Homo sapiens: one gene and its partners. The protein of the gene in region 1 interacts with the protein of each later gene in a pairwise test. Each region holds a gene or a part of one and is shown in the gene's direction. Other genes may lie near its edges.

Region 1 (5,935 bases):
GGAATTTGAGATTAGCTTGGGAAACATAGCAAGACCACATCGCTACAAAAAAAAAAAAAAAAAAAAAAAAAAAAAAGGTTAGCAGGGCCTAGTGGCATGCACCTGTAGTCCCAGCTACTGGGAAGGCTGAGGTGGGAAAATCCCTTGAGCCCAGGAGTTCGAAGCTGTAGTGAGCTATCATCGTGCCACTGCACTCCAGCCTAGGTGACAGAGAGAGACCCTGCCTCCAAAACACTTGGGCAAGGATGGAGAGACTCCCCTCTCCCAGACCTAGAATGCTTGCTCCTCAGCCTCACTTCCCCTGTTTCTGTCCTCATGATGTCCCCAACCTGCCACCTCTGAGTCTCTGGCCCTATCTTTTTTTGTGTTTTTATTTATTTATTTATTTATTTATTTATTTATTTATTTATTTATTTTTTTGAGACGGAGTCTCGCTCTGTCGCCCAGGCTGGAGTGCAGTGGCGCAATCTCGGCTCACTGCAAGCTCCGCCTCCTAGGTTCACGCCATTCTCCTGCCTCAGCCTCCGAAGTAGCTGGGACTACAGGCGCCCACCACCACGCCTGGCTAATTTTTTGTATTTTTTAGTGGAGACGGGGTTTAACCGTGTTAGCCAGGATGGTCTCGATCTCCTGACCTCGTGGTCCGCCCGCCTCGGTCTCCCAAAGTGCTGGGAATACAGGCGTGAGCCACCGCGCCTGGCCAAATCTGATCTTCTCTTAAAGAGAGTTTGTGGAAGGCATCCTCTGTCTTCTGTATTACAATCTCACTGGTCAGAACTTGGTCTCATAGCAATTGTGAGCTACCAGGGAGTCTGGGATGGTGAATATTGTAGATTTCTAACTTCTTTAGTTGAGAAAGGCAAGGGAGAATGGGTTTGTCAATGGCTTCTGGAAACCTATTTGCAGGGTCTGCTGAAGAACAGAGCTCACCTTGCCAGTGGAGCCTTGATATGAGAGAGGGAATGGAAGGAGGTAAAAGTGGGGTATTATGCCAGGGAGAGCAATCCCACAGTGACCAAACAGCAGCTCCCTGCTGCAGGGCCCTCGGTGGCTTGGGTCAAAACAGCGTGGCCTCTACCGAGAGGCCCAGCCCTAAGACAGCTCCTTCTGGCAATCAGCTCTAACCAGCTGCTGCCAAAGAGGTAAACACATTCCAAGTCCTTGAGTCCCTGCTGCACTGTAACTGTGGTTAAAACACAACCCCGCCTCTACCAGTTTGGGCTAATGGAAAGTTCACTATAGTTGTGTTTTAATGATGATTTGCAATTATCCGTGCCCCCTCCCATTCATGGTGAGATGAATACCTAAACACTTATGTTGTCTAACCATATAAGTATTTTGCATCTCACGTGTATCATTTTAAGTTCATTTCATTCTCCAATCCTTGGGAACCATGAAGGATAACACATTACATTCTCTTTTTTTTTTTTTTTTCCTCTGGAAGATCATGCATTACATTCTCTTTTTTTCTCTGGAAGGGTGGCCCTTAAACCAAGCCATTTCCCTAAGCCCCTTTGGTGAGGTGGAGAAACAGACAACCACTAACACAGAACAACCACTGAACACCCAGAAAACTGTATACAGGTCATCACCCAGTGGGGGCACCATTTGCTTGCAGAGGGAGCTGGGGAAAATAGGAAACAGAGAAGATCAAATACTCCCCGTGAGGGTGTTGCCAATCCCAGAGAGGACAATTGCTCTTGACCAAAGCAATCTCTAGTTCAGTCAAGGAGACAGACCACAATCACATTTAAAAAAAAAAGAAAAAAAAAAACTAAAAGGAAATTTTAAAAGTATGAATAAGAGCTATTGTAAACTGCTCAAACTATGCATACAAGCAATGAAGTAAGATGAATTGACTGGCACTGAATTGGAAAAGCTATACAGAGGCAGGGAGTGTGGAACATAATTTAATAAAAATAAACTTAAAAAAATATATATACACTCCCAAAAAAGAAATGGAAAAGTTGTTAGGGCGTGGACCAGGACTCCTAATTAGCTGTTCTGTTGTGCCTGATTTCGCTCCTGTCTTGCCCAGCACCCCTTGGGACACACTGTCCAGTGCAGGGACACTTTGGGGAGGGACAGGGGATTCCTTGGCACCGGGACCTTCACCTCCGAGCCGGCCTCAGACCAGGCCATTTGCCCGTAGCCCAGAGGAGGAGCCGGGGAGAAACCCGCTGCCCAGGTGGCCACTTTTGCCTCTTTGACCCTTCCATGTTTCCAAAACAGAAGGGGCCCTGAGAACGCTCCCTGCCAAAGTGGGGAACAGCTACCCTCATTGTACGCCTCGCCCTGCCGGTGGCGCTCTCCCCCCGCCTGCGTTCGGTCTGAAAGTGTGAAAATTACAAATCCCAAGAAACTGCAATCAGAAGTCTACCTAGGGAAAATTCAGAGTAACCTTGCCATAAATATCCCGCTCCAAGACGCCTGACGTCAGAGCGGGGCGGGCGGACGGGCGCGAGGCCGGGCCTGGAGGGGCGGCAGCCGCGGCTTCCCGGGGATAGCGCGGAGCACGCAGCAGCGAGCGGAGCGCGGGCGGCGGCGCCGTACCTCGGGCTGCGGGAGCGCGGGCGCCCTGGGGTCCTCGGAGTAAGTGCGGCCGGCCCTGGCGCTCCCCGTCTTGGGGCCCGGGCCGCGGGGAGCCCTCTCCGCTGGGCTCCCACACTTCTCTCCCTCTGCTTTCTTTAGCATGCCCCGCGGGGCTTGGGGAGGCAGCAGCTCCGCAGGCTGGCGGTTTTGTTTCTCCAAAGTGTTTGCAGGAGCCGCCGACCCCGGAGTGGGCTCCCAGGGCCTGTGTGTGTGTGAGTTGTGTGTGTGTATGAGTGTGATTGCGTGTGTCTGTACTGGCACATCTGGACATAGGAAATGTCTTTGGAAAACTTTTTAAAAATGTTTTTTGCGGCTTTGAAACCTGACCCCTGGTTGTCACAAGTGGACAAACACAGAAGATACCCCGCAAAACTGACAACTTTTTGGTGGTGGCTTTTCCGGGTTCGGCTTGAACCTTCACTTGGCTGGGCTGAAGTCTTCACAAGCCCCCAGCTCCCACTTGCAGGCCTGGCCTCTGGCCAGTGGGCAGGGCAGCCGTAAGGTTCTTGTTCTCAGTGGCAGTGGGACCCTGGGCGGGGGAAGGAGCATCTCAGGAAAGGGGTCCCCGGACTCTGGGGCTCTCAGCACCTGCGGTCGCAAACCAACCTCATGCCCTGACTTTACCAGGCGTCGGGACTCTGACTTAACCGGGGAATGAGGGACTTGGTCTGGCGGCAGGTAATTTTGTGAAGAGGATGAGAAGGAAGAGGGGGAGGTGGTGGTGATGGCCAGGACGCTGTGGCCCTGTGTCCAGCCGTAGCTTGGGAGTGGGATGGTTGGTTCTGCCACATGGCCACGGTGAGGTACGTGCCAGGTTCTCCAGGAGTGCCGCGTGTGGTGCCCCAAACAAGATGCAAGCTCCTAACATAAAGAGACGTGTCTGAGCTGTGGGGTGGAGGAAGGGGGGCGGTGGGGGAGAGGGAGATTTTTATCAAAATTGAACACAGATTGCTGAGATCTGGGCTTGATTTAACTCTTCTCTCTCTGCCTCGGCCACTTCTCCACAGTTTTGGAGTGGATTTGGAACGTTTCTCGGAGGGTTAGAGGAAAATCACACCTCTCCGGAAAAGAGTCCCCATAGGTTTTCCCTTGATGCCCACGTGGGAATGAAAGCAGCTTCCCATCTTTAAAAAGTTCAAAGTCTTGTGTTTTCCCCCTTCTGAGTTTGGTGTTAGTTTCCTGAGTTTCTTTGCAAAGCCAGCTGAAGCGGGGGATGGATTTTCCCTAGGGCCTAGGGCGGAAAGTGTGCTCCACGGAGAGTAGGGGAAAAAAGCAGCAGTGAGGCTGTATCGATCCATCATCCCTGAGTAGCACAGTGCCAGGCACTGCCTGTCAATAGCTGGGTTCCACAAACGAGTGACCACAGACAGACTGAATTTTCAGCTTTGAGCTAGCCAGGTCTCTGGTTTTGTATTTTGCAGTAGAGCCAACCTACAATGTCTGGGTGGGAGGAAGATTACTGGACTCTCCCTCTGTCCTAGAAAAATGAGAAAATGAAGGGACAGGGAGGAAATCTGGATGTAAAAACAGACCCACAGGAAGTTAAGATTCAGGAAGGATTTTAGAAATTATATAAATTGAACCCCAGGGAAGCTCCATAAAAGATGGAGCAGGCAGCAATGTCAGAAACAGACTCATTTAACTTCAGGAGTACGTTGTCAACTGAAGTGTAATGAAGGAGGAGGAAATCATCCCATAGGCAATGTAAACAAGGGTGCATGTAAACAGGAGTGACTGGTCCCCATGAGATGCACATGCCTATGTGTTTTTACACATACATGACTGTGTGGTGATGGCCATGGCCTTAGACATGGGAGGATAAATGGTCTATTTCTTCATCTGTGCTGGGAACTCCATCTAACCCCCATTTCTTCCTTTATGCAAACAACTGTGCTATTATTGTCTTGCTCCCTGGTAGTTGCAAACTCTGGCTCCTAACTCCCAGCTGAGTTTTCAGAGCTTTTCCTCCAGCGCCTCGGATGCTGAGGGAATACTCGTGCCCCCATCAGGACAAAAAGAGGAGAGAACATTCTCCTGGGCATTAGAACTTAGAGAGTCAGGGGCTCAAGAAGGCGGAGGCTGTGCAGGCAAGACCAATAGGAAGGCCTGTAAATGATTTTGTTTTTGGTGAGCGTGGAGGAAGTTGAAATACTACTGCTTGCTGTGAGAACATGTTCTCTCCCCAGTCTTCTTTCCCGACTGTCTCCAAAGTTTTTGATGCAAAACAGATTAAACTCCCCATTACTAAAGAGCCTTGGATCCAGGTGTAAAGAATGAAGATAAAGGGTAAGTACAGGCAGTAGAGAAAGCATAGAGATAATGAAAGATGAGGCTTTCTTATTTGATTTTACTAGAGCCAATGGAAGTAACAAGTTTAAATGTTCTCATTCATTTCCATTATTTAAACATAGAAGACTACCCAGGGACAGAAGGGACCCCTCGGAACAGGATTCCCAGAAATACTCTTATCCCAGCATACAACTCCTCAGGGACAGGTGAGGGGCAAGAACTGGGTTTTCAACTCTTTCTACATGTGGGGTTTCTGGGAGTGCTGCATGTGGGATCAGTGGAGTCCTGATGCTTCTGGGCTTGTACTAGGAGACATTTCACTATGGCCGGGATGAATTCCCAGGCCATGGATGCCTAGGCTGACATTGAAGCCTTCTCATGGCTCATTCTATCAGTTCAATCTTCTGGCCAGCTCTTTGGTCATCTTTGAGATTAGATTAAGTAGATGGGATGCATTCCAAGACATCCTTGAAGGTCCAGAGGGCAAACACAGCTGGCAGAAAGAACAAGTTGAAGGATATCCTTGGCTTTGATAGCGGATGACCCTCTAGATCTCAACAGCCAGAGACTCTGTCAAGGATCCTGTGTCATTCAGCCCTAGACTTCAGAGGCAGCCCGACAACAATGGAAAGAGTGCAGATTTCTGATCAGCTGCCTGGAGAGAGAGAACTGTGACCTAAATACGAATTAGTAACCTGGGCTACATGACTTATTCCTTCTGAGCTTCAGCTTCCTCATCTGTAAAATAAGGATAGTATTTCCCTCCCCAGGTCATTATGAAAACATTTATGCACAAGAACTAAGAACAGAGCTCAGAATGTTATAAGACCCTTCATAAAGGGAGTGCTGTATTTTTATTTTTCAGTTTTTCAGCCATCACAAGCCAGTATTGCTTGGAAAGAACCTCTCCCCAAATCTAGCTACATATTTTCCATGATTGAAGGCTAGTGGGTGGAGTTTCTAGGGCTCTGATCATCCTTACTTCCTTCCTCTAGAAAAGGTGACCAATGAAGATATTCCATGAGCATCCCTGGTCCATTATCCTGAAGTGTGG
Region 2 (4,629 bases), on another chromosome or scaffold:
CTCCGTGGCCTGGAACTGCAGCCCCAGCTGCATCCTACACCCCCACCCCAAGGGTAAGTAAGAGGGGACTCTGGGAGGGGCTTCTGCTGCTCCCCTTCATGTTCCACAACCCTGGAAGCTCAGGATGAAGCTGATTCTTCTCTTACAAGGGGCCCAGAGCCTTCTTGGGAGTTCAGCTCCAAGGGATGAGCCCCAGGTGTCTGCCAAGTCCCCCTCTGTCCAGGCCTGGGACGGCTCTGGGATCGAGGGGTCAGAGGCGCTGAGCCCAGGGAGAGACACCTGCGCCCAGAGCTATGACAAAGGGTGGAGGGATGACAAGGCAGCCAGGAGCGGGCGCCTGCGGGGTGGCACAGAGGGGCAGGGCCCGAGGACAGGTGTCCTGATGGGAGTGTGAGAAAGGGTCCCCTGTGCGGCAGCCAGGAGGGTAGGGGGGTTGTTCACTGGGGCCCTGTGGGGGCAGCTCCTTCCTGAGCTGCCGTTCCCTCCCCGGCAGCCGATGCCACTGTCCATCAAGACATCGCCCTCTTCCCATCACTAATCCAGTTAGCGCCTGGCCTGGGGATGAGTGACACAGCGTCTCTGTCTGTCTGCTCGCCACAGAGTGGGGAGCAGGCGAGCACCTTCCCAGCCCCCACTCCTCCCCCACCACCACTGCTTCTGACTGGGCTGCCCCCATCGGGAAGGGCGTGCAATGCCCGCAGGCACCTCGGCTAGCATCTGCCCCAGCAGGCACACAGTAGGCGCTCAAAAACGTGCTCTCATCCCCTGCCTCTGTGTGCCATCAGCGCTGCCCGACTGTGGGACCAGCTGTGGGTGGAGGTCCCCGGGTCTCAGCAGGTGGAGGAGGCATGGGTGCCCCTTGTCCCCACAGTCCCCGCGGTTCATTGGGCGCAGGCAGAGCCTCATCGAGGACGCCCGCAAGGAGCGGGAGGCGGCGGTGGCAGCAGCGGCCGCTGCAGTCCCCTCGGAGCCCGGGGACCCCCTGGAGGCTGTGGCCTTTGAGGAGAAGGAGGGGAAGGCCGTGCTAAACCTGCTCTTCTCCCCGAGGGCCACCAAGCCCTCGGCGCTGTCCCGAGCTGTGAAGGTGTTTGAGGTGAGCTGGTGGCCTTCGTGTCCCTGGGGCAAGTTCACCTGTGGGTGGGGCTGTGTGGGCTGAGTTCCTGACCCCTCTATAGCAGAGGTGCAGCTGCCCAGGCCCCCGAGGCCGGCACAGGATGCAGCAGGGGAGTCTCAGGCCTCAGCTCAGCCCCCATGGCATCTAGCCACACCCCCGTGTTTTTGAGGGATCCTGAGCCCACCCCTAGGGCTGAGGCTACCAAGCCCCACTGTGCCTCTTGCCTTGCCCATCCCCTGGATCCCCCTCACCCACCATTTCCCACGTGGGGGGCTCCCAGCAGGGCAGCACAAGAGGCAGGGGCAGGGCAGTGTGCCCTCTCCCACCCACCCAGCACAGTGGCTCAGGTGACCACTGATTGCATTAGTCACTCCGGCCCCACTGTGCCCCGGGAGGCAGGTGACCCAGCTCCCGGAAGAAGCTCCCAAATGACATTAAAGCCAGACTCCCCGCCCCCCAGCTCCCAGAGCCAGTTTTGTGGCCCGAGGGCCACTGCGACCCACCGCCCTTGTTGCTAGGCAACAGGAGGTGGGGGTGGAGCGGACCCTTCTGGCCAGTGTCCTGGACGCTCAGGGGCCAGTGAGACTCAGGGCCCATCCTACAAACCTGGATGAGGCCACCAGGGTTGGGGGCACCTTCTGACCAGTGGCTGAGGAGCCGGACTGTGTGGCATGGCCTTGGGACACACACACCGAGCCGCCCAGAACCAGGTTAAGCCTCAAGCGGTGACAACTCCTGGTTAGGCACGTAACACAAAATCCAACTTGCCAGTGGCAAACCCTGGCCTGGTGGCCGACAGCTGACCTGAGCCTGGAAGAACGGGATCTGTGTGCTGCTAGCACAAAAGTCAAGGGCAGGGCCTGGCCAGCCAGCCAGATGTGCCTCCTCCCCGCCCACCCCACCCTCTCTCTCCATCTCTGTCTCTTTCTCCTTCTCTCTCTCTTCCTGCTTTTGCTCCCTAAGACGTTTGAAGCCAAAATCCACCATCTAGAGACCCGGCCCGCCCAGAGGCCGCGAGCTGGGGGCCCCCACCTGGAGTACTTCGTGCGCCTCGAGGTGCGCCGAGGGGACCTGGCCGCCCTGCTCAGTGGTGTGCGCCAGGTGTCAGAGGACGTGCGCAGCCCCGCGGGGCCCAAGGGTGAGGCGGTTTTCTGTCCTTGAGGGCCACCAAATGACCTTGAGAGGCTGGGGTGCAGGGGCTCCTGCAGGGGGACCCTACAGTGACCACGTGGTGGTGGCCTGGTTCCCTCTCTGCGGGCTCCACTCCGCACCCCGTTTTGCTACACATCCGTGTCCGGGCCTGGGGCCACTCCAGGATCCCCCCGCAGCTCTCACAGCCCCGGCTGCCTCTGCCCCCCGGAAGTCTTGTAGGGGAGGCTGCTTCAAGGTGGGTGACACAGCCCCACGGCTCCGAGCTCACCAAGATCTCTTCCTCCATCACCCATAAAGTCCCCTGGTTCCCAAGAAAAGTGTCAGAGCTGGACAAGTGTCATCACCTGGTCACCAAGTTCGACCCTGACCTGGACTTGGACCACCCGGTGAGTGGTGCGCCCCTCACTCAGGCCTCCTGCCCCTGATCACATCCCCTACCCTTAGCCCAACCCTGGACAGGAGTCTGTCGGCTCCAGGAGCCTCCGTGGCCTGTGCCCCCACCCCAGCACAGCCTCCTGACCCGTGCATCCCCTCTGCCCTCAGGGCTTCTCGGACCAGGTGTACCGCCAGCGCAGGAAGCTGATTGCTGAGATCGCCTTCCAGTACAGGCAGTGAGGGGCCCCTGCGCTCGGGACCCAGACTCCGTCCTGCAGGCTGACGCTGGACCTGGGGGGTGGGAGGGAAGGACAAAGGGGAGGACCCATCTTGTCACCAGCATCAGTGCCTCCTGCCAGGCAGCTCTGCTCCAGGGCTTTCCATGTCCCCAAATCCCAGTGGGGAAACTGAGGCCCAGGGGGGCTAGAGCAACCTGCCGAGGCCACATAGCCGGCTCACGGCACAGTCAGCTGGGGTGCACCCTCCTGTCCATCCTCCAACCCAAAGGCCTCGCTGCACTAGGCGGGTGTGGACCTGTGCCCAGTGAAGCTCCCTCCCTCCCTCCTGCCCTTCTCACTCCCCGAGGGGACCTGCTGACCACTGGCCCCCTCCCCAGCGGCGACCCGATTCCCCGTGTGGAGTACACCGCCGAGGAGATTGCCACCTGGTGAGACCTCCGTGCAGCTAGGGGCTGGGGAGGAGCCCGGGGGATGCCTCCTGGAATCCTGGCGTGTGAGGGCCGCCTCCAGGGACCTTGGCACAACAGGAGAGACTAAGGCCGGGAAGAAGAGGGACTTGCAGGGCTCAGAATGTTGGGTTGGGAGGAAGAGGCTACCCATCCTGTCGGGCCATCCCCAGTGTGCTGAGGGACCGCCCCTCATGGCCCCCTATCCCCTGGGATTCCCTAAAGCCACCAGCAAAAGCCCCTCCCGGGGGCCTGGGTCTTCAGGGGTCCCCAAGAGGCCTGCGTTGGTAGGGGCTCAGGCAGGCAGAGGCACCCACAGTTCAGGAGGGGGGTTTCGGGCACTGGGGTGGGGCATTAGAGGGCCCTGAGCCTGGCTGCCCGCAGGAAGGAGGTCTACACCACGCTGAAGGGCCTCTACGCCACGCACGCCTGCGGGGAGCACCTGGAGGCCTTTGCTTTGCTGGAGCGCTTCAGCGGCTACCGGGAAGACAATATCCCCCAGCTGGAGGACGTCTCCCGCTTCCTGAAGGGTGTGCCCAGACGGGAGGGGCGCAGAGCCGGGGGGCCGGGGATGGTCAGCCAAGCGCCCCACCCCAGCGCGGCTCCAGCCCGTCCCGGCTCGGCAGTGACCCGCGTGGCCCCTTGCAGAGCGCACGGGCTTCCAGCTGCGGCCTGTGGCCGGCCTGCTGTCCGCCCGGGACTTCCTGGCCAGCCTGGCCTTCCGCGTGTTCCAGTGCACCCAGTATATCCGCCACGCGTCCTCGCCCATGCACTCCCCTGAGCCGTGAGTGCGCGCCCTGGCCGCCAGCCCGAGGGTGGGGGGTGCGACGGGCGGCCCCTCAGCCCCCTTCTCCCTCCTACGCGCAGGGACTGCTGCCACGAGCTGCTGGGGCACGTGCCCATGCTGGCCGACCGCACCTTCGCGCAGTTCTCGCAGGTACGCCGCGGCCTCGGAGGGAGCCGGGGTCACCCAGGGGCTGGCTTGGCGCCGGGGGCGGGCGGGGATCGATGTGCGGGTGGGTGAAGTGTGCTGCCTGCTCCCGGGCCCCGCCAAGGAGGCTCGGCGCCCCGAGGGTCGCGCGGCATAGGGCGGGGCTGGAGCGGAGCCTCCCACGGCCTGTGCTGCCACCTGCCGGCTACCTGGGAACGGCGCCCACGGGCTTAGGAATGTGGTCAAGGAGGGCTGCCTGGAGGAGGAGGCCCGGTGGAGGTGCGGATCCTGGGCGGCCAGGGAAGGTCTCTGCCGCCAGGGAAGTGTCCCAGAGACCCCTGGAGGGGCTGCTGACACCCCCGGTGCCCCCAC
Region 3 (5,436 bases), on another chromosome or scaffold:
AGGGCATTTAAAAACCCGCCCTGTAATCAGTATTACCACTTTGGTATATATTTTTCTAAACTCTTGAATGCATGGATATGTGAATTAGTCAAAACTGAATACGCTAGTCACACTTTGTATGTTCTCTGAGGGGCTGAATGTTTTGGTTGTTTTCCATTTTTTTTTTTATTGTGGTTGTCCTTTTTTTCTTTTAGTTAGAAATATACTGTGCCCATCTTTTCTAGGAAATAGAAAACGGTCAAGTTAAGTGTATATTTTTTTCAAACTAAACCTGGCTCCGAGCTTTGCACTGGGCATTGGAGAGGCCTTCAATGGCTCTTCCCCGGTCTGGCACTTCCTCTTCTTCCCTGACCCTCGAGTCATGGGCAGCAGTGGAGGGGCATGAACCCTCCTTCTGCAGCATCTGCCCCATCTCCTCCTGGGCCGAGTCATGCCTTGGGAGAGACAGCAAAACCCTGAACAGCAGTTCAAGGTCTTCTCAGCCTTGGGGTGATGCCTCCAGTGCCACTCCCTGAACTTGATCCCACTGCCAGGGCTGCCTGCATTCGCCCACTCCCTCAGCAGGGGTTTTTAGAGCATGAGTTTGAGCTAGGTTTTCTGCCAGCTGCTAAAGACCCAGATGGGACTCATTTTGTGCCTTCAAGGCGCTCAGAGTTAAGAGGCAGTGAGCTAGAGTAGAAGTTAATGGTGCAGTAAGGGTAAGTGCTGTGAGCTGCAGGGAGAACTGTGCCTGGAGTCCCAGGCGACACTCAGGTCTGCTCTCACATCGAAAGCACTGTCTATGCTCACCAGACTGTGAGCCGCTGAGGCCAGAGCCCTCCATTCATCTCTGCGTCCAGCACCCGACACCAACCCTGCCCATGGATGTTTGCCGGATGAGCCATCCGTTTGTTTTGTTTTGATTTGCACAAGTAATCCATGCTCATAGAAACTAGAAAATAGTAAAGAAAAAGATTAAATCTCCCTTACCCTGAGGCAACCACTGTTAACTGTTTTTCTAGGCATGTATGTATACATGCAGCCCCTTTATTAAAAAGTGAGTTATATATGATACATGTTGTCTTGTTAGCTGCTTTCATTCAGCAGGCTGTTGGGGCCAGCTTTCTATGTCAGGGATTATGGGCTTCCGTCATGATTTTCCTTTTGGCTACACAATAGCCCATTGTGTGGATGTGTTGGAATTTACTACCCTCAACTGTTAGATGATTAAATGTATGATTAATTCACACCATGCCATGTGATTATCCCATACTGTACTTTAGGTATGGTAATCTTCACCTGGGGATCTTCTGGTCACATAAAACAGTTTTTTCTCTGAGGAAATTAGAACTTTATACTTTTCTTTTTGTATTTTTATATTTTTTCTTAAGAAATGCTATTAAAAAATAAGTTGTTTCCTCAGACTGTTTAGCTGTAATTGTGAATAATTTGCCACCCTTTGTGGCAGAAGATGTTTGAAGGCCACTTGAAGGAAGAACTCGTGTCATAAAAACAACTGTAGTTATTCTTTACTATTCAGGTGTGTTTGTTTCCACAGGCACTGGGTGCAAGTTCCTGTGAAATATGCCACGAGGTGTTCAAATCAAAAAACGTGCGTGTGCTCAAATGTGGGCACAAGTATCACAAAGGGGTAAGAGCTCTTTTTGGCCATCCTTACAGCATGCATTGGGACCTTCAAATATTTTCAAAATAAGAAAGGAATTGTTTTCTAGTCATCAGTATTTATTGTGCTTTCAAACTATTTTCTTTGCAAACCTCCCGTGTCAGTGTTCAGTGCCTCCCTGTCCTCACACCAGCTCTGCAGGAAGGGCAGCTCTGGAGACCGTCCTTTCCATCCCTTGTGGGGAGAGGGGAACAGCAGCTCCAGCCACTCGTTAGTGCTGAGATTCAAAGCAGTATTAGTTCCTTGAAAGGTGATTTCTTACACACTTGACTAAATGGAGAAACAGTGAAACCATTTTTTTGACTTAGTGTAGTATATGAAGTCAGTTTAACATTTTAGAGGAGAAAAACTAAACCTAGCTGAGTCCCTTCTGCCTGACCCAGGGACAGTCCTGCTCGTACCGTTCTGGGATCTGTGTGTGAACTATCATGGTGTTCTAGGTACCGTGAGCATTTGTGTGCACCCCTGCTGCTGGGTTAGAACAGATCAGGTCTCTGCCATGGGGATTTGCTAATCCCTTGGAACGGGATAAATACAGCATGCTCACTGAAAGGAATTGAGACCACTTGCCAAGTCTCTGGTGTGGTGTGCCTCCTTGGGTACAGGGTCTTATATTTGGGCTAGCTGACTGTCCACAGCCTCTGCAGTGTGGGCAGCAGCAGCAGGAGTGTGGCGTGCAGGCTGGAGGGCTGTTCCAGAGCCAAGGGCCAAGGCCAGGCCAAGGGATGGGCTAAGAATGAGTGATTGGGTCATAGGGCCGAGAATGCCAGGCTCTGGAATTTGGCGCAGCTGAAGTGGAAGAGCCGAGCCTGGAACCGGGGATCAGGGCAAGACCACCCCCTGAGGCCAGGTTGGAGGCCCAGAGCGCTCAGGATCTGACCCTGAGGTGGGATCGTTTGCGGCTGGGGCTTTGTCCACACTCTGGCCTGAGCGGGTGTTGGTGTCCCTGAGTATTGGGCAGCTCCAGGCCCAAGAGACCAAGGGCAAGTGAGCCACGCCTGCCAAGGAGCCCAGCAGCACAGGGGAGCTAAGCTTCCTCATGGTCCTGAAGGCATCTTCTGATTTTGTTTTCTCCTTTTCAGTGCTTTAAGCAGTGGCTTAAAGGGCAGAGCGCTTGCCCGGCCTGCCAGGGTCGTGATCTCCTGACAGAAGAGTCACCTTCTGGAAGAGGCTGGCCCAGTCAGAATCAGGAGCTGCCTTCCTGCTCTTCTAGGTAGTCACACTTCACTAAAGTGTCATCCACCAGTGTGTTGAATCCGAAGAATGACAATTTTCTACCACTGGTGTAAAAAACAAACATTTGAAGACCCTTGTGCATTGTGTGTCACAAAGCTAAATACATGGAAATCGTTAATATCGCTGATATTAAGTAATTTCCCCACTCTGAGTGAATACTTTGATGATTGCCAACAGTGGCTAATAAAATGACGGCTACCACACTCATGGGTCACTGGGGCTGCGCAGGGCTCTTTGAGGTGGGTGGCTTCTTTTGGAAAGTACTATGAACGTCTCGAAGCAGTATTCTAGTGATAAGAATTCTTAACATAGCCAAGCGCCCCACGTTTGTTCCCCACGTTTGTTCCCCTTTTCTGTTTGAAAAACCTGTTCTGGTAGCTCCACAAGAGAGATGATACTGACTTTTTAAATTTTTTACAAGAGTCTGTATTCCTGATATGCCTATATTTTTCCTCAAAGATTCTGCATTTTAAGGATGGGCATAAGCAAACTATATTTTAATAATTTATAGTTAATGTTAAAATATTGGCTGATTTAGACCAAAAGATTCAAATCTCCTCTTTGTGAAATCCCATCTGCATTTGATTTTTTATTATTTTATGTTCCCCCGTTAGATTGTTTTAAGTGTTTGCTTTTCATCTTTTATAGATGTAATCTGATTTTCAAAAATCATTAACACTTTTTAATTAGTATCGACTAAGACTTTTTCCCCCTGGAATCGAGGCTGTGTGTCCGTCATCCCAGCCCCCGGTTGGAGCCTGCTCTTTGAACTCCGCTGCCTTCCTTAGCAGCTTCTGTCCTCTTCTGTGAGTCAGTCAGCGAGTGCTTGGGATCCGCATCCAGCCGTGCTGAGCACACAACAGGCTGTGTGTGGAAATGGCCACCACCATTCTCCTTCCCCACCCCACCACAAAAAGAGAAGCTGTGTCTTTAGACAACCCTGAGGTATCTGTGTTACAATCGTTCTGTGTTTGATATTTGTGTAAAGTATGCATGCAGTCTTGTACTGTGACCTAAGAACAAAACTGTAACTGCATTAGAAACCATGAAAAAATTAGATATTGTTTTGTGACTTTTAGACAGTGGTAAATATAGAACCATGAATTCTGGTCACATTCCATTTCTCTCCAACATGAAGGATCAAAAAATGTTTTTCAATGTGTTCTTTGTTCCACTGGAAACTTAGAGTCATGAGTTTATGAGCTGATTTGGTCACCTTCCTCTGCCTTTGTTCACTGTGAGTTCTGATGTCTTAGTGACTTAGTTCTTAGAAGCTCACGCCTTAGTTTGAAACAGATTCTCCACGGTGGTCCCCAAAACACTGTCTGCATATCCATAAGAATTGAGCGCTATGGGTGTTAACGTGCATGAGGATCAGTTTGCAGCAGCAAGTACAAAAGGAGAAGAGGAACATCCGTTGAATGAGTGTGTTTTGTACATAACTTCAGATACTTGTGAACATGCCTTATATTTGTCCAACAACTGTCAGAATAAAGAACATTCTAAAATGAGAAGTTCACTGTCACTCTTGTCCATTCTTTCTTAGAGAAGTTTAAAAATGCATTCTTCTGGAAAACTTAGGACATGTATGTCATGCTAACATTTTAAGAGTGCTTTCGTCAGGAAAGAACAGCCACGCCATGCTGTGTCTGAGGAGTCTGACCAGGGATCTCAGGGCGTTTTAGGGCCTGGGTCAGAATTTTCCTTTGTGCCTGCGTAAGATCGACTATAGGAGTTCACACAGAGATGATAGAGTTTACTTCTTAAGGCTAAATTAAGAGATTTTTCATGTGAATACATATAAGGATGTTGAAGATAAATTGCATTCCTTGGTATATTTTTTGAGGCATTTGTGGATTTATGGGCCACTGAGGCTGTCGATGGGGTTTCCTCTATAGAGGGGCTTCTGGGTATGCTGAGCACTCACAGAGTGAAAGCTCATTTGAAGAAAGCTCATTTTCAAAATCTGTCTTCTGTTTTTTCAAGTGTATTCAAAGTATTATCAGTACGTATTTTTAGTCTGATGGCATTTAATTTAATTTAAAGCAATGACTATTCCTTAAGAATTTAGGCCGGCCGCGGTGGCTAACGCCTGTAATCCCAGCACTTTGGGAGGCCGAGGTGGGCGGATCACGAGGTCAGGAGATTGAGATCATCCTGGCTAACACAGTGAAACCCCGTCTCTACTAAATACAAAAAACTAGCCGGGCATCGTGGTGTGTGCCTGTAGTCCCAGCTACTTGGGAAGCTGAGGCAGGAGAATGGCGTGAATCCGGGAGGCGGAGCTTGCAGTGAGCCGAGATCGCACCACTGCACTCCAGCCTGGGTGACAGAGCGAGACTCCGTCTCAAAAAAAAAAAAAAAAAAAAAAGATTTTAGATTAGTTTTCCCTGCTGAACTGCTTAATCTATGTTATGAATAATGGATAGCCTGGTATAAAATTGAAGTGGTGCCCCAGCAATGCAAAATGTTACTACGGTTTTAAGGTAATCTCAAAGACTACAGAAGTGCCCCCACTTATTCGTGATTTTGATTTC
Region 4 (5,436 bases), on another chromosome or scaffold:
ATCTGTAAGTGAATAAGTGAGCATATGCTTTAACAAATAAGTGAAAAGATGAATGATTGAATGAATGGGGGAAGCAGTAAAGGAGTGAATGAATGAAGCAACAAATGAATTATCAACTGAATGACAGAAAGAATGATCGAATAAATGACCACATGAATGAATGAATATGTCCATAAATGAATGAATGATGAAGTGCCAGAACAGCTATAATTAACAGCCTATCTTTTCACAAAGAGCATTGATAGTCATCTCCCCAAAGTTGAAAAATATAAATTCAGTCAAGAAGAGTCCTGGTAATTTTTTGGATACTGGTAGGTGTATAGTGTCTTTGGAGAAGGTGAGGAGATGTCTCTAAGTTTTCACTCTTTTGCTGAAACAAAAGCAGGGACTGACTCACAGTGATTCCCCTTGTCTTCCCTTATATTTCAGGTTCGTTCACCCTTGCCTGGGTGAGATCAGAATCTGTATATTTATCCACTCATTTATTTGTTCACTTAGCCAGTCCCACAATTGTCCTTCAGCATTGCTTCCCTGCCTAAGATCCACTCTGGCTTCCTCATCCTCCCTCTTCCTCCATCTCCTCATTCACCTGGCCAACTCCTACTTATCTTTCAAGGCCTCATTCAATGCCACCGCTCTGGGAAGCCTTTCCTGGCTTCTGTAGGCAGAGCACATCTCTGCCTTCTCTCTTTCCCCATAGCTGCTGCTGCTTCCCTTAACTACAATTCTGAACACACTATGAGGTTGTCATTATGGGTTTACACATTTATCTCTCTGACTAGCTTTCAGGCACTGAGTCTTATCCCAGGGCCTCTGTCAGGCCTGACACTGCATCCAGGCTTGATGGATGCTGGCGGCATGGAGGTAAGGATGGATGGGCCAGAGTGTGCGTTCTTGATGGCTCTGAGCGGTGTGAGAATGCGGCGGTGCAGATGAGGAATCCAGGTCTGCTCCTGGGGAGAAGCTCTGCAAAATTCTGCATAATGGCCGTGGAGCTGATGTTCCCATTCATCAGGCAGGGAAGGAACAGTTTTTAGAAAAGAGAGAGAGAGCCTAAGAGTCCTAGGGCCTTCAGAGAAACATCTCTTTAAATGCTTCCCCTTCCTCCGGGTAGTATTTTAAATAGGTCACCTTCTGGAAGTAGTGGTAGTCAGTTGGGATATTGCTAGCTTCCCGTACCCCAGCCATGGGAGTAGTACTTTGGATTAAATCTTGTTATTCAAGGCCAGACTAAAAGCCTCATTGGTGCGGTGGGGGGAAGTAGGAACCACATTCCACTCAAATCAGGAAGCTAGAAGTAGGATTGCATTATGGCTATGAGCACCGCGTTAAAATAAGAGTCTTGGGATTGAACTCCCTTTCATTGGTTCATAGCTGAGCCTTTCCAGGCCTCAGTTTCCTCTTCTATAAAATGGGGACAGTGGGCCAGGTATGGTGGCTCACATCTGTAATCCCAGCAGTTTGGAAGGTCAAGGTGGACAGATCACGAGGTCAGGAGTTCAAGACCAGCCTGGCCAATATGGTGAAACCCCATCTCTACTAAAAATACAAAAATTAGCCGGGCATGGTGGCATGCTCCTGTAATCCCAGTCACTCAGGAGGCTGAGGCAGGAGAATCGCTTGAACCGAGGAGACGGAGGTTGCAGTGAGCCAAGACTGCACCATTGCACTCCAGCCTGGATGACAGAGCGAGACTCCGTCTCAAAAAAAATAAAAATTAAAAAATGGGGACAATGACAGTGTCTCCCTATAGGGCCACGTGAGGGCCAAGAAGGAATTGAACATGGTGCTGCACACCAGGTGAGTTGGCAGTGCTGGCTTTGCTGCTGCCTTTTGTCCCATCTCAGGACAGGCCCCTTCCTTCTGCCTTGCTCCACTTGGATGATGACGGTGTTACCCTTGGTAATCTCCCCATCCCTTTGAGCTGTGGCCTCTGATTCCAGCCCTCTGAGATCCCGAGCCACCATATCCATGGTCACTGGCATTCTAAGCAGTTTCTCTGGTGATTCCTAAGGGAAGCTGTCAACTTTAGATGGTAAAAGCAATTCCCAACAGTGAGGTATGAAAATGCAGGTCACCCGCCAGGAAGGATAATAATACTAGCTCAAATGACTCTGGCCTCCACCCAGTGCCAGGCACCTTGCTCGGCTCTTTCCTGTGTTATTTTATTAACCCCAACCCTGGAGGACAAGATGCTATTACAGTTCTCATTTTGCAGTTGAGGAACCTGAGGCTCTAAAAAGGGAAGTGCCTTACTAAGGGTCATAGAGCTTGGGAATCGCAGAGCCTGGTTCTGGTTGATCCCAGACCCTGAGCTTCTAACTGCCATACTAACCTCCTCTCCTCCTGGCTTTGCCTCTGGAACCTTAGGGACCTGAGTAGAAAAACAGTCAAAACGGGTGCATGGATGTTGGGGAGAAGGCATTCAAGGATAGACTGAAGCACCTCATTAGCCACACGGAACAACTGAGCTACGTGCAGGCCCTGAGCAAAATGCTTTTAGCCCCATCCCAACCCCGCCTCCCCCTAGATCTGTTTCCATTTCATCTGACACTGTGGAAGCCTGAATATGAAATGATTGGGGGCAGAAGGCCAATTAGCAAATTCATTAATAGGATTAAACATCTCTCCTCTGCTCTAATCATTTATGTGAACTAAAATTTTCTCTCTTTGTTATAGCCATCATTGCCTGTCAGTGAAGATAGAGTGTTTAAATATCTTCCAAGTATGTTAGAATTGCAAACGTTCAGAACCAGGGACCAGGATCAGAGTTTTCACACGGTCCAGGTGGGCAAGGAGATCAGTCGGTTTACAAGTGGTTATCACTGCTAAGAAAAAAACACAAGAACTTGCTAGTACATTTGCAAGTACCTTACTGCTCATCTCCTTTCTCTCCTTAGCCACATGTTGGCCCAAATCACCTGCGTATGTTATACGGTTGTTATGAGCATACACTCCTGGTTAGGCAGACCTAGAATTCAAATCCTGGCTCTGCAACTCATTAGCTGTGTGACATTGAGCAGGTTACCTCGCTTCTGTGAACTTTCATCTCTACATAATCTAGAAAATGAAAGTATTGTTGATAATTCCCTCCCAGGTTGTTATGAGGATTAAATGCAGTCATGCATGTAAGATGCAGCGGTCAGCACTCAGAATGCGCTAAAGGTAAATTGTTACTATCTGGGTCTACTCCACTTAAAGTGTGCTCCTCCAACCAACAGCCTCAGCATCAGTTGGGAGCTTGTTAGAAATACAGAGTCCCGGCCAGGCGCGGTGGCTCACGCCTGTAATCCCAGCACTTTGGGAGGCCGAGGCTGGCGGATCATGAGGTCAGGAGATAGAGACCATCCCGGCTAACACGGTGAAACCCCGTCTCTACTAAAAATACAAAAAAATTAGCCAGGCGTGGTGGCGGGCGCGTGTAGTCCCAGCTACTCGGGAGGTTGAGGCAGGAGAATGGCGTGAACCCAGGAGGTGGAGCTTGCAGTGAGCCGAGATCGCGCCACTGCACTCCAGCCTGGGCGACAGAGCGAGACTCCATCTTGGAAAAAAAAAAAAAACCTCAACTCAGTGAGACCTACCCAGTCAGAACCTGCATTTTAACAAGATCACCAGATGGTTTATATGCCCACTGGAGTCTGAGGAATACTGGCCTAAAGTACAGATTATGGAACTATGTGTATTGTATTACACAAAATTATATATCAAGCCAGAAGAGGCTTTTGCTAAGACTTCTGATTTAAGCCTCATTTTACAAATAAGAAAATAGAATCCAGAGAAGGTGAGTGGTTTGCCCACAATCACACAGCTCAAGTGTTAGGCCTGACATCCGAACCCCAGCCCTGGTCATCTCATATAAATTGTTAAGAAGTCAGATTTCCAGATTTGCATTTCTGCAATCAAGCTTGTCTGTTTTTCTTTCTCTCTCTTTCTTTTTAACAACAAAGAAGTGCAGGATGATGTACGCCCATTAAGTTTTAGTTTACTCATTTTAAATGTTATTCCAGCCAACAGAGATCCTGAATCTTGACTCCACCAGCCATCATCTTAGCTGTACCTCCAAGTTTTCTGCTACCTGAAGAAATGATAAGGAGGCATTCTAGGTCTTTATCTAAGTTGCTTCTAAGAACATGGGCCAGAACAGGGTGCAGGACAGAGCCATGTGGACTGCAACTAGAGACTTGCCTGCATAATGGATTTCACTGATAATGTTCAGAATCCCAGAGCAGGATGGCAGCCTGGTTTACATACAGAGCCTTTGTGTGGGATTTGAAGCCAGAAAATGTGACTAAAGTAGGAGTCTAAACAGACACAGGTAGGGCCTGGGGAATGAAAGTCAAATGCCTTTTCCAGGGGGTCTAGTAGGACCTCTCTGTTGGTGGGGATCCCCCAAAAAAGTAATCTTTTTATTTTTGTAGGAGTCCTGTAATGGTTTCATTATTATTCTCACTTTGCAGAGTAGGAAACGTAGATGCAGGGAGGTTCTTGATTGGCTAGTGATTAGTAAGCAAGGACTTGAAGTGGATCTGATTGCGAGGCACTCCACCACCTGGGCTCCTGCCTGCAGCTGGAGGGCATATCCAGGACAAGCAAGCCTCTGAGCCCCAGGAAGAGGCTGAGCAGTTACAGCTAGTTTCCCAACTCCCAGGAACTGAAAATGACAGCCTCCTCTTGGCCCCATCAGCTCCTCACCCATGCCAACCCTGGACCCAGAGTGAGGGATGTTCTGGTGGAGACCATGAAGCTCCCAGCTGCCTGGGGGAAGCTGGCACATTTGCATCCGTGTGGCTGAGGCTGCACTTTCTCTCCATCTCTGGGATTCGCCCATGTATGACTCTCCCAGATGTCCAAATTGTGCACTCAGCAGGGGTGTCTTCAGGAGGCTTCCCCACCCATCGAAATCAGGGCAGCAAGGGGCTCCCCTTGTCTTCTTCCCTCTTTGCATACATCCAGCCCTGGGCTGATTAGGACTCTAAGCCCTGTAGGCCCTGACACTAAAATAATCAGGTCCTCCCACCACTGCCCCGCCCTGCCTCACCCCACCAAGGGCTACACAGGCATTTCAAAGGAGAAACAGTAAAATAAGTTTAAGGAAGTCTGCCAAATTTGGATTTTTCCCATGTTGACTACTTTAGTGACTTTTCTGAAATAAAATGTGCTTTCAAAACACAATTTTTGATGCCTCTACTTTGCTAGTGCTTTAAGCATCTCTTGAGTGTGCCTGTGAGGTATTTCAGCATTGGAGTTGGAACCAGACAGGAAAAGGAAAGAAACCGATCTGTATCGGGCACCTGCTGCATGCCAAGGACTGTGCAAGGTGTTGACAAAATAACAACAGTAACAAACATAACATTTAAATCGTCCTTGTGACATTTATATAGCAATCTGTGCCAAGTACCACTCTAAGCGCTTTCGGTACATTAAGCTAATTTAATC

The links.
Region 2: the proteins of DAAM2 (region 1) and TH interact in a two-hybrid assay, tested with the Homo sapiens proteins (one large-scale study listed by BioGRID).
Region 3: the proteins of DAAM2 (region 1) and TTC3 interact in a two-hybrid assay, tested with the Homo sapiens proteins (one large-scale study listed by BioGRID and IntAct).
Region 4: the proteins of DAAM2 (region 1) and KCNIP1 interact in a two-hybrid assay, tested with the Homo sapiens proteins (one large-scale study listed by BioGRID).

The regions. Positions count from the first base shown.
Region 1 is NC_000006.12:39,789,874-39,795,808, forward strand, and holds the start of DAAM2 (disheveled-associated activator of morphogenesis 2), read left to right. Parts: upstream 1-2,502; 5' UTR 2,503-2,592; exon of another isoform or gene 2,593-4,865; coding exon of another isoform or gene 4,866-4,878; intron 4,879-4,899; exon of another isoform or gene 4,900-4,918; coding exon of another isoform or gene 4,919-5,087; intron 5,088-5,935. UniProt on the Homo sapiens protein: Key regulator of the Wnt signaling pathway, which is required for various processes during development, such as dorsal patterning, determination of left/right symmetry or myelination in the central nervous system.
Region 2 is NC_000011.10:2,166,114-2,170,742, reverse strand, and holds part of TH (tyrosine 3-monooxygenase), read left to right. Parts: coding exon of another isoform or gene 1-53; intron 54-871; coding exon 872-1,093; intron 1,094-2,077; coding exon 2,078-2,252; intron 2,253-2,563; coding exon 2,564-2,652; intron 2,653-2,809; coding exon 2,810-2,877; intron 2,878-3,257; coding exon 3,258-3,308; intron 3,309-3,710; coding exon 3,711-3,856; intron 3,857-3,974; coding exon 3,975-4,110; intron 4,111-4,193; coding exon 4,194-4,263; intron 4,264-4,629. UniProt on the Homo sapiens protein: Catalyzes the conversion of L-tyrosine to L-dihydroxyphenylalanine (L-Dopa), the rate-limiting step in the biosynthesis of catecholamines, dopamine, noradrenaline, and adrenaline. Uses tetrahydrobiopterin and molecular oxygen to convert tyrosine to L-Dopa.
Region 3 is NC_000021.9:37,198,695-37,204,130, forward strand, and holds the end of TTC3 (E3 ubiquitin-protein ligase TTC3), read left to right. Parts: intron 1-1,537; coding exon 1,538-1,630; intron 1,631-2,745; coding exon 2,746-2,880; 3' UTR 2,881-4,413; downstream 4,414-5,436. UniProt on the Homo sapiens protein: E3 ubiquitin-protein ligase which catalyzes the formation of 'Lys-48'-polyubiquitin chains. Mediates the ubiquitination and subsequent degradation of phosphorylated Akt (AKT1, AKT2 and AKT3) in the nucleus.
Region 4 is NC_000005.10:170,509,506-170,514,941, forward strand, and holds part of KCNIP1 (A-type potassium channel modulatory protein KCNIP1), read left to right. Parts: intron 1-5,436. UniProt on the Homo sapiens protein: Regulatory subunit of Kv4/D (Shal)-type voltage-gated rapidly inactivating A-type potassium channels. Regulates channel density, inactivation kinetics and rate of recovery from inactivation in a calcium-dependent and isoform-specific manner.